2 separate regions of the Homo sapiens genome follow, and region 2 is linked to region 1. Evidence: fine-mapped expression QTL. Tissue or cell type: tibial artery. Region 1 holds a variant in brackets; the other region holds the start of a gene. All regions are shown on one strand. Distances are between the middles of the regions.

Region 1 (8,102 bases):
CAAGGAAATGGCTAAATATAGAAAATATACTAACACCACAGAACTCCTATGAACCATGGCTAAATGGGCAAAAAATATAGAGAGAGAATCTTTTAAAAGAGATTCCATTTACAATGGTGTGTGTGTTTCATCTGGAAAACCTAAAAGACAAATACAGATGACACATATGAATAAAACAATAATGGTTCAACTATAAAAGACTTGTGTAAATGGAATGACATTCTGTATTTGTGGCAAGAAAAAGTATCATATAAATATCAGTTTTTCTCCAATTAGATTAAAACTTTGATCTAATTTTAATCAAAATAGGTTTTTGAAACTTGACTGAAGTATTCTACAATTTGTCTGGAAGAATAAACAGGGATATAAAAGTGAACATTCTGGGGGAAAACAATAAAGGGGATCTAACCCAAGCAGACTCAGCCTTTTATAAAGCCAAAATAAAATTAACATAAAGAGATATCTGGATCAGGCATAGTGGCTCCCACCTGTAATCTCAGCACTTTGGGAGGCCAAGGTGGGCAGATCACCTGAGGTTAGGAGTTTGAGACCAGCCTGGCCAACATGGTGAATCCCCCGTCTCTACTAAAAATACAAAAATTAGCTGGGCATGATGGTCGGGTCCTGTAATCCCAGCTGCTCGACAGGCTGAGGTTTAAGAATCGCTTGAACCCGGGACACAGAGTTTGCAGTGAGCCGAGATCCCACCACTACACTCCAGCCTGGGGGACAGAGTGAGACTCTGTCTCCCAAAGGAAAAAAAAAAGATTCCTGACACAAAAATATGCAAATTGACATTTGCATATCAATTTGGGATAGAGCAGAGTTCAAAAGTAAACGCTGCTACGGATAAGAACTTTCATATATGATAAAGAAGCACTTGTACATTACAGTGGCGGGGGCAGAGATAGTTAATAAATGGTGTTGAGACTGCTGGGTCAAGCGGAAGTGCCACCACACCAAGGGCAGTACCGTGAGGACATGCCTGCTGAGGGCCCCAAGAGGGGCACGGAAGGTCAGAGGGGCGAATGGAGTGACCTGGACCTGATGGGCGTGGCCCAGCATCTGTCTGTTTCCACAGCACTGGAGAGCCAGCTGAATCACAGCCAGCTGAATAACATGTTAACCCCATGCCGTGTGGGCAATTATTTTCCAAACATGGTTGTATGTTGGAACCACCTGGGAAATTTTGAAACCGTTAAATGCCTAGGCTGCACCCAGTCCCAGGTACATGAGAATCTCTGGGGGTGACATGGGCCCTAGGTGTTTCCAAGGAGCAGCTGAGTCTGAGAACCACTGGTGCAGGGGAAAGCATGGCCAGCTCCATCTCTGACTAAGCTGTATTCTCATCTGTAAATTAGGACCACTATCATGCAAGACACAGATTATTTTGAGCAGCCAGAGAGGTGAAGTATACAATTTGTGCATCATGGTACCACAACGATGAAAGTCAATTCTTTCTCCATTCAGAGTGACACCAACAGAGTGCATAGTGGGTGTTCAGGAGAAGGCCTGGGGCTGGGGAGGTTCTAGAGACCAAGACACAAACCCTTCCCTCCCCATCTGAGAGGCTGCTCCTCCACTCCCCTTACCTATCTCCAGGCTGAGCTTGGCTGGAGCATGGAGAAGGGCCTTGGAGGCTTTTGGCCTCTTTCCCACCTGGGCATGTTCAGGAGGCGGTGCAGGGTGGCATAGACAGGCGCTCTGGTCAAGTGGCCCCATTGGCTCCTTCTCCCTCTCTCTCTCCTCCCTCACTGTTCTCAGGCACCAGGAGCTATCAGGAGCACGGCCACCGAATGCTGCTCATTTGGCTGCATGGCGTGGCCACGGCTGGTGAGAACCCCAGCAAAGCGCTGTTCGAGGGCCTCGTGGCCATTGGCAGGAGGGACCTGGCTGGTAAGAGCGTACTCTGCTGGGCTGCTTCTCAGGAGCTGGGTGGCCCCCACTGGAATGCAGCAGGGCCCTCCAAGGGCTGCTCAGACAAGAATGCTGTGATGCTGGCTCTAGGCCTTCCAGATTCCTACCCCTAGCCCTGCCCTCTTTTCCCTTGGGCAAACTACAGTGCCTCCTGGCCCTGGTTTCCCCATCTGTGCAATGAGGGTGTTGGCCCAAACTGAACCCTGTGACCTTCACAGCCCCGGAGCCAGTGATGCTGTCCATAATCTCTTCCTTACCAGCCCTCTATACCTTGACATTTTTTTTCCATTTTGGAATAAGCCTGGAACCACCTCCAGACTTTTTTCACAAACATTAAGACATAGGAGCCAAAACTGACTTAATATGAGTTGAACCAGTCAAATCTGGTCAAATAAACCTTCTGAGGTCATCACAACTTATTTGAGTATGCCAATCTCAAAAGCCTGATATGGGATTCAGTGTTCTGTGGAATCATCAGACAAGCAGGATAGAAGGTTCTAGTACTAATCCCTCATTAAAAACAAAATCAGCTCATGATGAAAAAGCCTTAAACGCTGTGATACCCACTGACGTGGTACATAATGGGGCAACCACAGAATGGGGCACTAGGCAGCCACTGATAGTTGTGAAGTCTCCATTAGATATGAGGCAACAAAGAAAACCACTCCTGACATATTTCTAGTATATTGCTGAGGGAAATGTTTCTAGCATATTATTGAGGGAAAAGAAAGGACCGCCCCCCCCCCCCCCCCCCCCCATAGCTGCTATAGGCAAGGTGGAAAAGCTAAGACTCATTTCAGGGTAGAGAGATTAGGGACGCTACCTTTCTTTCCCCAAAATGTTCTTAAATATAGTTGTTACATCTTTTAACACAAACTGTGGCATGCAATTAAAACATAAAACCAGTCCTGTGAGGCAGAGCTTAGGCAACAGAGGAAGTAAGATTCTTGTTTTTAACAGAAAATATCAGGAAGAAAGCAAACGCAGCCCCGAGTGCCCCCAGGAGGTGCACAGCCATGTAACCGGAGGGGCCAGACCTTCAGGCACGTGGGACCTCAGCGTGTGGAGCCACCTGAACAGAAGATGACCATCATTTAAGGGCTTTTTAAAAAATCACTGTTAACAGACCTCCAGGTGATTCT[A/G]CTGAAATGCACAGTCATGCAGAGCCCAGGAGGCAAATGTTTGTACACTGATCTTTTTCATGAGGATGGGTCCAAGGGCCTGTAATCCCGTCCAACAGGTATGGTCCTTTTGAGCTCTTGGCACACTTTGTTTATTTCTTCTTCTTTTTCTTTTCTTCTTCTTCTTCTTCTCTTCTTCTTCTTTCTTCTTTCCTCTTTTTCTTTCTTCTTTCCTCTTCTTTCTTCTTCCTCTTTCTTCTTTCTTTTTCTTTTCTTCTTCCTCTTTTTTCTTTTTTCTTTTCTTCCTCTTTTCTTCTTTTTCTTTCTTCTTCCCTTTCTTTTCTTTTCTCTTTTTTCTTTTCTTCTTCCTCTTCTTTTCTTCTTCTTCCTCTTCCTTCTTCCTGTTTTCTTCTTCCTCTTCCCTCTTCTTTCTTCTCTTCTTTCTTTTTCTTTTCTTTCTTCTTCTTCTTCCTTTTCTTTCTTCTTTCTTCTTGTTCCTTATTCTTCTTCTCTTCTTTTCTTCTTCTATCTTCTTTCCTTCTATCTTCTTTTTCTTTCTTTCCTTCTTTCTTCTTCCTCTTCTTCTTCCTTATTTTCTTTTTCTTCCCTTTTCTTCTTTCCTCCTTCTTCCTCTTCTTCCTTCTTTCCTTTTCTTCTTCTTTCCTTTCTTCTTCCTTCTTTCTTTCCTCTTTTCTTCTTTCTTCCTCTTCTTCATCCTTCTTATTCTTTCTTCTTCTTTCTTCTTCCTCTTCTTTTTCTTTCTTCTTTCCTTCTTTCTTTTTCTTTTCTCTTCGTCCTCTTGTTCTTTCCTCTTCTTCCTTTCTTTTCTTCTTCTTCTTTCCTTCTGCTCTTCTTTCTTCTTCCTTCTTATTCTTCTTTCTTTTCTTTCTTCTTCCATCTTCTATCTTCTTTTTCTTCTTCTTTCCTCTTCTTTCTTCTTCTTAGTTCTTCCTTTCTTCTTCTTCCTTCTTTTCTTCCTCTTCTTCCTTCTTTTCTTCTTCTTTCTTCTCTTTCTTCTTCTTCCTTATTCTTCTTCCTCTTTCTTCATCTTTTTCTTTCTTCTTTCCTTCTACTTTTTCTTCTTCTTCTTTCCTCTTTCTTCTTCTTCCTTCTCCTCCTTTCTTCTTCTTATTCTTCTCCTTCTTCCTTCTCCTTCTTTTTCTTCTTCCTTCTCCTTCCTCTCCTCCTCCTTCGTTCTTTTTCTTTCTTCCTTCTTCCTTCTCCTTCTTCTTAGTTCTTCCTCCTTCTTCTTTCTTCTTCCTCTTTCCTTCTTTTCTTCTTCCTCCTTCTTCTTCTTCTCCTTCTTAGTTTTCTTCTCCTCCTCCTTTCTTCTTCTTAGTTCTTCTCCTTCTTCCTTCTCCTTCTTCTTCCTTCGTCACCGTCTTCTCCTTCTTCTTACTTTCTTCTTCCTTCGTCTTCTTCTCCTTCTCCTCCTCCTTCCTTCTCCTTCGTTCTTCTTCTCCTTCTTTTCTTCTTCTTCCTTCGTCTTCTTCTTCCTCCTCTCCTTCTTCGTCTTTTCTTTCTTCTTCTCCTTCTCCTTCTTCTTCCCCTTCTTCCTTCTTCTTCTTCCTCTCCTTTTTCTTCTTAGTTCTTCTCCTTTCTTCTTTCTTCTTCTCCTTCTTCCTCCTTCTTTCCTCTTCTCCTCCTCCTCCTTTCTTTTCTTCTTCCTTCTCCTTCTTCTTTTCTTCTCCTTCTCCTCCTTCTTCCTCCTCCTTCTTCCTTTCTTCTCCTTGTCTCTTCTCCTTCTTCTTTTCTTCTCTTTCTTCTTCTCCTTCTTCCTTCTCCTTCCTTCTCTTCTTCTCCTTCTTCTTAGTTCTTCTTCCTCTTCTTCCTTCTCTTTCTTCCTCTTCTTCTTTTCTTCTTGTCTCTCCTTCTTCTCCTTCTTAGTTCTTTCTTCTCCTTGTTCTTCTCCTCCTTCTTCCTTTCTTCTTTCCTCTCTTTTTTCTTCCTCTTTCCTTCTTTCTTCTTCTTCCTTCTTATACTTTCTTTTCTTTCTTCCGCTTTCTACTTTCTTCTTCCTTTTTTCTTCCTTTTTCTCCTTTCTTCTTTCCTTCTTTTCTTCTTTTTCTTCTTCCTCTTCTTATTCTTTCTTCTCCTTCTTTCTTGTTCCTTATTCTTCTTTCTTCTTTCCTCCTCTTTCTTCTTCTTAGTTCTTCCTCTTCTTTCCTTCTTCCTTCTTTCTTCTTCTTTTACTTTTTTCTTTCTTCTTTCCTTCTTATTCTTCCTCTCCTTCTTCTTAGTTCTTCTTTCTTCTCCTTCTTTTCCTTTCTTCTTCTTAGTTCTCCTTTTCTTCTCCTCCTCCTCCCTTCTTCTTCCTCCTCCTTCCTTTTCTTCTTTCTTCTCTCCTTCTTCTTCTTCCTCTTCCTTCTCCTTCTTCTTTAGTTCTTCCTCCTCTTCCTTCTCCTTCTTCCTTCTTCTCCTCTCCTTCTTCCTTCTCCTTCTTTCTTCCTCCTTCTTCTTAGTTCTTCTTCTTCCTTCTCCTTTTCTTCTTTCTTCTCTCCTTCTTCTTCTTCTTCCTTCTTCTTCCTCTTCCTTCTCCTTCTTTTCTTTCTTCTCCTTCTTTTCTTCTCCTTCTCCCTTCTTCTTTCTTCTTCTCCTTGTTCTTCTCCTTCTTCTCCTCCTTCTTCTTTCCTCTTTTCTTCGTTCTTCTTCCTCTTCCCTCTTTTCTTTCTTCTGCTTTCTTCTTCCTTTTTTTCTTCTTCCTTATTCTTTTCTTCTTTCCTCTTCTTTTCTTCTTTCCTCTTCTTCCTCTTTCTTCTTCATTCTTTCTTCTTCCTCTTTTCTTTCTTCCCTCTTCTTTCTTCTCTTTTTCTTTTTTCTTTTCTTCCTCTTCTTCTATTGTTTCTTTTTTTCTTCTTTCTTCCTCTATCTTCTTCCTTTCTTTCCTTTCTTCTTCCTTCTTTCCTCTTCTTTTCTTTCTTCTTCCTCTTCTTCTTTTCTCCTTCTTCTTTCTTCTTCCTCTTTTCTTCTTCTTTCTCCTCCCTCTTTTCTTCTTCCTTTCTTTTCTCCTTTCTTCTTCCTCTTTCTTCTTGTTCCTTATTATTCTTTCTTCTTTCTTTTCTTCTTCTTCTCCTTCTTTCTTGTTCCTTATTCTTTTCTTCTTCTTCTTCTTCCTCTCCTTCGTCTTCTTAGTTCTTTCTTCTTCTCCTTCTTTTCCTTTCTTCTTCCTTCTTAGTTCTCCTTTTCTTCTCCTTCTCTTCCTTCTTAGTTCTTCCTTCTTCTTCCTCCTCTCCTTCTTCTCTTCTTCTCCTTCTTCTTCCTTTTCTTTTCTTCTTCTTTCTTCTTCCTTCCTCTTCTTCCTCCTCTCCTCCTTCGTTCGTCGTCTTCTCCTTCTTCTTCTTCCCTCTTCTCCTTCTTCCTCTTTTTCTTCTTCCTTCTCCTTCTTCTTCCTTCTTCTCCTCTTTCTTCTCCTTCTTCCTCCTTCTCCTTCTTCTTTTCTTCTTCCTTCTCCTTGTTCTCCTTCTTCCTTATTCTTCCTTCTTCTCCTTCTTCCTCCTCCTTCCTCTTTTCTTCTTCCTTTTCTTCTTCCTTCTTCTTCTCCTTCTTTCTTCTTGTCTCTTCTTCTTCTCTCCTTCTCCTTGTTCTTCTCCTTCTTCTTCTCCTTCTCCTCCTCCTTCTTCTTCCTTCTCCTTCTTCTTTCTTTTTGTTCTTCTTTCTTCTTCTCCTTCTTCCTTCTCCTTAGTTGTTCTTCTTCCTTGTTCTTCTCCTTCTTTTTGTTGTTCTTTCTTCTTCCTTCTTCTTCTTTCTTCTCCTTTTCTTCTTCCTTCTCCTCCTCCTTCTTCCTTCTTCTCTTGTCTCTTCTCTCTCCTTCTTCTCCTTCTTCTTGTCTCTTCTTCTCTCTCCTTCTTCTTCTCCTTGTTCTTCTCCTGCTTCTCCTCTTCCTCTTTCCTTCTTCTTCCACTTCTTCTTCTTCCTCTTCTTCTTCTTTCTTTCTTTCTTCTTCTTTTCTCTTTTTTTTGATATGGAGTCTTACTCTGTTGCCAGGCTGGAGTGCAGTGGCGCAATCTTGGCTCACTGCAACCTCCACCTCCCAGGTTCACGCCATTCTCCTGCCTCAGCCTCCTGAGTAGCTGGGACTACAGGTGCCTGCCACCACACCCAGCTAATGTTTTGTATTTTCAGTAGAGACGGGGTTTCACTGTGTTAGCCAGGATGGTCTTGATCTCCTGACCTCGTGATCTTCCCCAGGGATGGGGTGTTCCATCTTCTGCCCTGTCCGGCAGAGTAGCTGCTTGCCACCTGAGGCTGTCATGCACCTGAAATGTTGGCTAGAGGGACTGAGAAGCTGAAATTTCTTATTTCTCATTATTTGAAATTGCAGGCACCCATAGCAAGTGGCATCCATGGTGCTTGGCTTTGAGGTGCCAGGCAAGCACAGCTTGTTCTGGGGCTTGGCTGTACCAGCAGGGGGATGTGTTTCTGGGGAATTGTGGCTCTGGAAGCTTCACGGTTTCCCAGAATGTGGAAAATATATCTGTGCAGGATAGAAATCCTGCCCAGAGGCTGTTTCTGTCTCATTTGAGCTCTCCTTCATGTGGCAGAGCTGGCTGTGGCGTTTAGGAGCCTACATTTTAGAAAAGCTTACCTCAAAGTTCTGCATTGAGCCTGAGACTGGAAAGGAGATAAAATAAAACAGCTGACAGGAGCTTTGGTAGTCACACATGCCTGATGGGGTGCACAGGGCCACAGTCTCTGAAAGGCAATTTGGCATTGTCTGTCCACAATATACTTTTATCCATTGGTCCAGCAATCCTACTCTAGGAATTTTTCCTACATATAAACCTGTATGCATACAAAATGATAGACATACAAGGTTATTACTCTGAAAAAGCAAAAGATTGGAAACAAACCAAGTGACTGGCTACAGGGGACTGGTGAAATAGAGTATGTTCCATCCACACAGTGGAATTCTGTTCAGCAGTGAAAAAAGGATGAGAGTGCTTTCCAAGTGTTGTTATGGAAAGAGCTCCAGGATAAATTAAGTGGAAAAAAACCCCAAGATACAGGTACATTAAACCGAAGGAAATTGGTTCAGAGGATAGCTGCACCATTTTTAGAGAAAAA
Region 2 (8,102 bases), 41 kb before region 1:
CCACTGGGTACCCCTGACCCCACTTGGCTGGGAGCTTCTGCCACTCCCTCCCTCCTCTCAAGCAGCTGATTGCTCTAAGCAGAGAGGAAACCAGTGCCATTCTGGCTCCCAAATGCTGGTACAAGACCAGCAAATATTTACCACTCTTGTGTGTGTGTGTGTGTGTGTGTATTTTTTTCTTTTGTTAGAAAAGGGCTAGCGCAATATATAACAAGTGATTCATGGTGGCGTCTTCTGGTAGATTGATTGTATTTTGTCCCTTCTTTTTTTTTTTTTTTGTTTTTTTGAGACGGAGTCTCACTCTGTCGCCCAGGCTGGAATGCAGTGGCCTGATCTCAGCTCACTGCAAGCTCCACCTTCCGGGTTCACACCATTCTCCTGCCTCAGCCTCCTGAGTAGCTGGGACTACAGGCACCCGTCACCACGCCCGGCTAATTTTATATATATATATTTTTTTAGTAGAGATGGGTTTTCACCATGTTAGCCAGGATGGTCTTGATCTCCTGACCTCGTGATCCTCCCACCTCGGCCTCCCAAAGTGCTGGGATTACAGACGTGAGCCACCGCTCCCAGCCCCTTCTTTGTATTTTAAAATTTCTTTAGTAATGAACAAACATTAATAAGACAAGAAATAAAAAGCTGTTTTAAAATTTCTCTTAAGCAAAAGGCCAACAATCATTTAAAAAATGAGTGGGATAAGAACAGATTGTTCTCAGGAAAAAAAAGAAAAGAAAACGGCTCTTAAACATAGAAACAGATAACCAACTTTTCTTGTAATGATAGAAATGCAAACTAAGATTATAATGAATTACTATTTCTTACTTATCAGATTGGGAAAAATCCAAGTTTTACAGAATGTTCTCCTTGGAAACAGGCACCCTCATACATTGGTAATGGAAATGCAAAATATTTCTGGACCTTATGGAGGAGAATTTGGCAATAGCTAGCAAAGTTATATGTGCATTTACCCTTTGACCAAGCAATCCCATTTATAAGAATAGATCCCATAGATGCACTGGTAAAAATACCAACTGATGCATGCATAAGGTTGGTCATTGTAACTCTATTGTAATAACAAAAGTCTGGAAACAGGGCCAATGTCCATCAACAGGGAGTGGTTGAATAAGCCACCCAATGGAGGACTCTGAGGCTGTACAAAGGATGCAGGAAGATCTCAACAGACTACTGCGGAGAGATCTCTGTAGTAGATTGTTCCCAGAATAAAGCCAGAAGAATGTTCAGAACGGGCAAATCTATGGAGAAAGAAAGTAGATTTGTAGTTGCCTAGGGCTGTGTGTGGAGGGTTGGGGAGGGTAAACTGCAAGGGGGGGTGATAGCTAAAGCATATGGGCTTTCTTTTCTGGGGTGATGAAAATATTTAGTGGTGATAGTTATACAACTCTGAACGATACTGTACTAAAAACCATTGAATTATACACTTAAATGGGTGAATTTTAAGGGGCAGGGCAAAGTAAGAAGATGATATATAGTATGCTACTGCAGTAAAGGGAGAATATATGATTAAATTAAACAATATAAGGGTAAGCATCAACAACACAAATGTTATTTTGTCAGTCAGGATGCAGTGAAGGAAGCAGAATCATGTTGAGGTTATGGGTTTAGGGTACTGGTCCCCAACCTTTTGGCACTAGGGTCCAGTTTTGTGGCAGACAATTTTTTACAGGACTTGGGTGGTGGGGGGATGGTTTTGGGATAAAATTGTTCCCCTTCGGATGATCAGGCATTAGTTAGATTCTCATAAGAAGTGTGCAACCTAGGTTGGGCATGGTGGCTCACGCCTGTAATCCCAGTACTTTGGGAGGCCGAGGCAGGTGGATCACTTGAGGTCAGGAGTTTGAGACCAGCCTTACCAACATGGTGAAACCCCATCTCTACTAAAAAAATACAAAATTAGCCGGGCATGGTGGCGCAAACCTATAATCCCAGCTACATGGGAGGCTGAGGCAGGAGAATTGCTTGAACCCGGGAGGCAGAGATTGCAGTGAGCCATTGCACTCCAGCCTGGGCAACAAGAGCAAAACTCCATCTCAAAAAAAAAAAAAAGAAGTGTGCAACCTAGATTCCTCACATGCACAGTTCACAATAGGGTTCACCCTTCTATGAGAATCTAATGCCACCACTGATCTTTCAGGATGCGGAGCTCAGGTGGTAATGCTCGCTCTCCTGCTGCTCACCTCCTGCTGTGTGGCCCAGTTCCTAACAGGCCATAGACCAGTACTAGTCTGAAGCCTGGGGGTTGGAGACCCCTGGGATTAGGGATCTGTGATAGTAATTTGCCTTACACAGTTGCGGAAGGACCAGAAGGGGAGTTGGGGATCAGAGGAGTCCTTAGTCAGTCATCTGAGAAACCAAGTATGTCCAGCTGCTAAAATGGAACCACAAGGGAAAGCTCCTGGGGAGGTCTATGGGTGGTACTAATGCCCTGGGTCTGCAGCCAAGTCCGCGATGGCCTGGGGCCACTGTTGGTCAGCAGGCTCAGCAGCTGGGAAGAAAAGCTGGATGTGGAGTGAAGGAGAGTGACAGCAGGCTGGAAGCCAGTGGTGCCCTCTTCATCCATCACCACAGCTGACTATGACAACCTTCAGAGACTTAACTTTGAAACATGTAAATACTTTACATAATTGTAAAGCAAAATTAACATTTAAAAATATCAAAAAACAAAAGCAAAACAAAATAAATAAACCATGCATGTTGAGTTGGTGGCATAACCACATAAAGAACTATTCCAAGTGACTAAAACAGTAACGTGACACTATGCCCCTAGTGGGATGTACATGTGACAAAAGCTTTACAAAAAACATTTAAACTGTTTTCAGGAATAATATCTTTGGCTAGGCGTGGTGGCCAAGCACTTTGGGAGACCTAGGTGGGTAGATCACCTGAGGTCAGGAGTTCGAGGCCAGCCTGGCCAACATGGTGAAACCCCCGTCTCTACTAAAAATACAAAAATCAGCCGCGTGTGGTGGCACACACCTGTAGTCCCAGCTACTTGGGAGGTTTAGGCATGAGAATCGCTTGAACCTGGGAGGCAGAGGTTGCAGTGAGCTGAGATTACGCTACTGCACTCCAGCTTGGGCAACACAGTGAGACTCTGTCTTAAAAAAAAAACAAAAACAAAAAGGGGGGGGTGCGGCGCAGTGGCTCACACCTGTAATCCCAACACTTTGGGAGGCCAAGGTAGGTGGATCACCTGAGGTCAGGAGTTCAACACCAGCCTGACCAACATAGTGAAACCCCATCTCTACTAAAAATACAAAATTATCCAGGTGTGGGGGCGAGTGCCTGTAATCCTAGCTACATGGGAGGCTGAGGCAGGAGAACTGCTTGAACCCAGGAGGCAGAGGTTGCAGTGAGCCGAGATCATACCACTGTACTCCAGCCTGGGCGAAAGAGTGAGACTCTGTCTCAGAAAAAAAAAAATCATATCTTTGATTATTATGTTGGAATTGTTATTTTGAGACCATTTTGAGGGGTTGGCTCAGGGCTCATTAATTGTTAGCTGTTATCATTATGTTATTTTTCAAAGGCCATTCCAAATACCTCCTTCTTCAGGAAGCCTTCTTGAACTATATTCTAAGGACTAATGACTGAAAGATGCTCTTCCTCCTTTGATCCCCAAAGTAGTAGTAACTACACCTATCATGGCTTTGCTGGCTTCTTGCCTTGGGATAGAGATGCCTGAGACCCCATTATCCCTAAATTCAAAGAAGCTGTAAATGCCTTTAAGGCAAAAAGGACATGGACATCCCCCAAGGGTCTGAAGTGCAACCCATTCTGGTGTATTTAATGTGTATCTTTTTGTTTCTATGTGTCTTTGCAAGTCTGTGTTGTTTGATGTAAATGCATTTGTAATATTTTTATTGATATTGTTTCCTAGGTCTTATTTGGTTTGGTTATTTACTTTTTCTGCCTAGCACTAGGTGTTTAAATCCATATTGCCACGAATACAGCGGGTCCCTTGCTTTGAGTGCTGCACAGTTTATCCATCTGCTCTTACAAGAAAGGGCGCTTAGATTGTCTCCAACTCCCAGCAACCACAGCAACACAGCAACCAACATCCTCCTACATGTCCCTTTATGGGCCTGATAAATCTTTCTGAACACTGATAAATCCGACCATCTCTTCATATGCTTGCAGACCTGCTGAGGTTGTGGTCCCTTAAACGCCAGCTCACATCTTTGGGGTTTGACTTTCTGCGCCTGAGGCGGCGGGCCCAAGGCTCAGCCCTCCTCCCCGAGTCCCGAGAGGCGCGAGGAGGATGAGCCTGCCAGATGCCTTGTGCGCATCTATCTCCAGGGCCGGGGAGGCTGGGCGAACTCCCGGGGAGGAGACTGGGTCAGGGACACCTGCGGAACTCGGCGTGGCCCCGACCCGCCGGCCTCGGGCGCGGAGGGGTGGGCAGGTTAAGAGAGCAGGAGGAGGGACCTGCGTCCTGGTCCGGGACTGGGGTGGCCGGGGCAGCTGCGCTCCTAGCAGGCGGGGCGTGGAGTCTGGAGGAGCGACCGCCCCGTCCTCTCGGCTCCCCGGGCCCCGCCCCGGCGGACGCGCGCCTCGCGCCCGGGCACCAGCGCGCGCAGGGGCTGCGGAGCGGCAGGATGCAGGAGGAGCTGGCGTGGGAGACCGACGGCCGTGAGTCTGCCTGGAGGAGGGAGGGGGGCGGGCCGAGGCCGAGAGGACCCCCGCATCCGTTTGGGGAGTGCCAGGGGTGAGGTTGGCGCCCTCCGAACGGCCACCTCCGTGTGGGGCGTCTGTGTGGCTCCGAGCGGAATGGTTACCGGTCCGCGCACTGGGCCGAGGGGACCTTGCCAGTGCGTCTGGGACTCGGGGACCACACCCGCCAGGTGAGCGGGGAGCAGCGGCTGAGAGGTTAGCTACAAATAATAAAGGTAATAGCGATCCTTGACTGCGTGCTGTACTTTGTGTGCCAGGCCTTGACCCAGGAGAGGCACGTCATTTGATCTTCGCTGCGGCCATATGGGTAGGACATTATGTTATCTTCATTTCGCAGATGAGAAACTGAGGCACAGGGTGTTCAAATGAGTTGTTCAAGGTCACACAGCCATTGAGTGGTAGAAGTGCTGAAGGGCCCAGCTCACCCGGAATGCTGGGGCTGGATAGCGAGTGGAGACCGCATCAGATGGGGCACGCACTCAGAGGAGAGGAGCCTGACTGGCCACAGGTGGAATGAGGGCACCTCCGAACCTCCCTCAAGGAGTGCGCCCAGTGCCAGGGCCTCTAGGCCGGGCAGCAGCGTCTGTGTGGGCATCAGCTGGCCTGGGGCAGCTTTGGCTGCACCGTCTGGGAGAGGGGAGAGAAAGATTGTGTCGGTGTCTGCACTGTGAGTCCTTGATCCTGCAGCCCTGGCTGAATCCTGACAGCTGAATCCCGGGGCTTTCCCTCAAAAGCGCATAGTGCAGCTCACTGGATTCCTTTGAGACCTATAGTGTCCAAAATGCTGGCACACTGCATCTACTCAGCTGAGGGATGTGTTGGGGGTGGGAATGCTCAATCAAGATTAGGTACATGGTTCTGCCTGGGGCGGAGGATCACTTGAGTGGGCCTGCGAAGAATGTGTACCAATGGAGCATTGGGGTGTGTGGCAGAGAATTCTGGACAAAGACCCAGCATGGGCAAAGGCTCAGGTAGCTCAGTGGGTATTGGATGTGGCCAGAAAGAGGGTGCCGGATGGGAGGTGGATGGAAGAGATGAGACTGGACTTGATTTCATTCTAACTTAACCTTCTCTGGCCTGACCCTATGCAGTGTCTGCTGGCTTCCCATTGGAACTCCTGGCTGTTTGCCAATACAAACCAGGCCAATCCCCCTAAGCTGCACATAAGATAGAGGGTGCCAGACAGGAAGGGACCTATACAGATCTCTTTCTTCACCCTCCCCCAGTTTTACAATGGAAGAAACAGACCTACAAGGGGGATGTGACTAGCCCAGGATCCTGCTGCTGGAAAGTGGCAGGGAAGGTACTAGAACCCAGGCCTCTGTAAGCTCACATCTGAAGTGGCAGCTCTCTTTGGCTACCAGAATTTGACCCTTTGCCTTGGAGGAATAATAGTGATGATGATGGTGGTGGTGGTGGCGGTGTGGTCATTATGTGCCAGACACTGTGCCAGGGGGTTTTCATATCTCATTTCTAATCATGATATTAACCTTGTAGGGAAGCTCGCACTCCTGTTTTGCAGATGAGGAAACTGCCTAACACAGCTAGGAAGTGGTTAAGCCAGAGTTGAACCCAGGACTGTGTGATTGCCCCCCAGGGTAGCAACTCTGAGATCCACAGGTTGTATCCATGAGGCCCCAGAAAGCTCAAGATCCTCTTTCTCATCTGGAGAAGACTGTGTGGAATTTATCTAGAAAAACAAACTGCATGGCAGGCCTGTCTCTCACCTCAGTGCATCTTAGCCTTCCCTACCAAGACACTCGTCACCTGTCCCTGGATACACAAAGGGGCTGGGTTCAGACATTCATACTGGACCAAACATGCAGGCTATGGGGTCACTTGCCCTGCAGTGACTATGGAAAGGGCCAGCAAATATTTGTCTCTGTGCTAGTATGTGTGAGCACTTTGGGAGAGGGGACAGGCATCTATTCGTCTGGGGATTGTTGGTGTCACTCATACAAGCAGAGATTTTTTTGTTTCTGTTTTCTTTTTTTTTTTTTGAGATGGAGTCTCGCTCTGTCACTAGGCTGGAGTGCACTGGCATGATCTCGGCTCACTGCAACCTCCAGCTCCCAGGTTGAAGCAATTCTCCTGCCTCAGCCTTCCGAGTAGCTGGGACTACAGGTGTGTGCCACCATGCCCAATTAATTTTTGTATCTTTAGTAGAGACGGGGTTTCACCATGTTGGCGAGGATGGTCTTGATCTCCTGACCTCGTGATCCATCCACCTCGGCCTCCCAAAGAGCTGGGATTACAGGTGTGAGCCACTGCACCCAGCCTGTTTTTGTTTTCTTTTTAGAGACAGGGTCTCACTCTGTTGCCCAGGCTGGAGTGCAGAGGTGCAATTATAGCTCATTGGCAGCCTCAAACTCCTGGGCTCAAGCAAGCCTCTTGCCTTAGCTTCTTGAGTAGCCGGGACTACAGGCATGTGCCACCACACCTGGCTAATTTTTAAAAAAACTTTTTTGTAGAGATGGAGGTTTTGCTTTTTAGCCCAGGCTGGTCTTGAACTCCTGGCTTCAAGCCATCCTCCTGCCTTGGCCTCCCAAAGTGCTGGGATTGCACGCATGAGCCACCATGCCTGGCTCAAAAGCAGAGTTTTGTGGGTTCCTCCTGTGCCCACCTTTGGGCCTGCTGTGAGCTGTGGGTGGATCAGGAAGGGTCAAGTGTGGCCAGGGCCTCCAAAATACTTGAAGTCTAGCCATGGAGACTAGACATCCTCACAATCAAGAGCCGTCAGGATGATGGCAGCATGGGGCTCCGGTGGGGATCATCTGGACCTGTGTCCTCCTGGCTCAGAGACTAATGCAGTCTGACCCTGAGCCCACAGGTGTGCGTGACAGGGGTTGGCAGGGGGAGCTCTGAGGTTCCCTTTAATCTGAGACTCTGTGCTAAAGGTGCAGCGATGGGGGTGAGAGGAGCACAGAGAAGAGAGACCACAGAGAAGGAAAATCAGGGTAGCCTCAGCGTGGGCAGGTGGAAGCTGGTTAGGATTTGGGCAAGAGTGATTGGAAGAGGCTGGGCGCTGTGGCTCACGCCCGTAATCCCAGCACTTTGGGAGGCCGAGGCAGGCAGATCACTTGAGGTCAGGAGTTGGGGACCAGCCTGGCCAACCTGGTGAAACCCTGTCTCTACCAAATATACAAAAATTAACCAGGTGTGGTGACACACACTTGTAATCCCAGCTACCGAGGAGGCTGAGGTGGGAGAATCGCTTGAACCTGGGAGGCAGAGGTTGCAGTGAGACAAGATCACGCCACTGCACTCCAGCCTGGGCAACAGAGGGGTTGGAAGAAGGGGTGGAGGAACAAGGAGACGGAATGTGCAGGAGTGGGGTAAACATGCCTCTGGCCTCACCCGGCGCTGGCACGCAGTAGGTGGCTCAGTAAATCCTGGCTGTGTAGACTGAG

What was found. PIP is the estimated chance that this variant, and not a neighbour inherited with it, causes the effect.
Region 2: ANKDD1A starts here. The variant in region 1 is fine-mapped to the expression of ANKDD1A in tibial artery (GTEx, PIP above 0.99). The same link has a PIP of 0.9 or more in lung.

The regions. Positions count from the first base shown.
Region 1 is chr15:64,948,077-64,956,178 of GRCh38, forward strand. ANKDD1A (ankyrin repeat and death domain containing 1A) reads left to right here. Exons shown (of 15, transcript NM_182703.6): 14 at 1,765-1,896. Among named protein-coding and RNA genes, the nearest start is that of SPG21, 38 kb to the right of the region's middle. The variant A/G (reference allele first, on the strand shown) is at 3,060.
Region 2 is chr15:64,907,315-64,915,416 of GRCh38, forward strand. ANKDD1A (ankyrin repeat and death domain containing 1A) reads left to right here and starts at 4,588. Exons shown (of 15, transcript NM_182703.6): 1 at 4,588-4,650. The coding sequence starts at 4,617. RefSeq lists silencers at 3,816-4,110, 4,184-4,233, 4,434-4,613 and enhancers at 4,800-5,343, 8,051-8,102.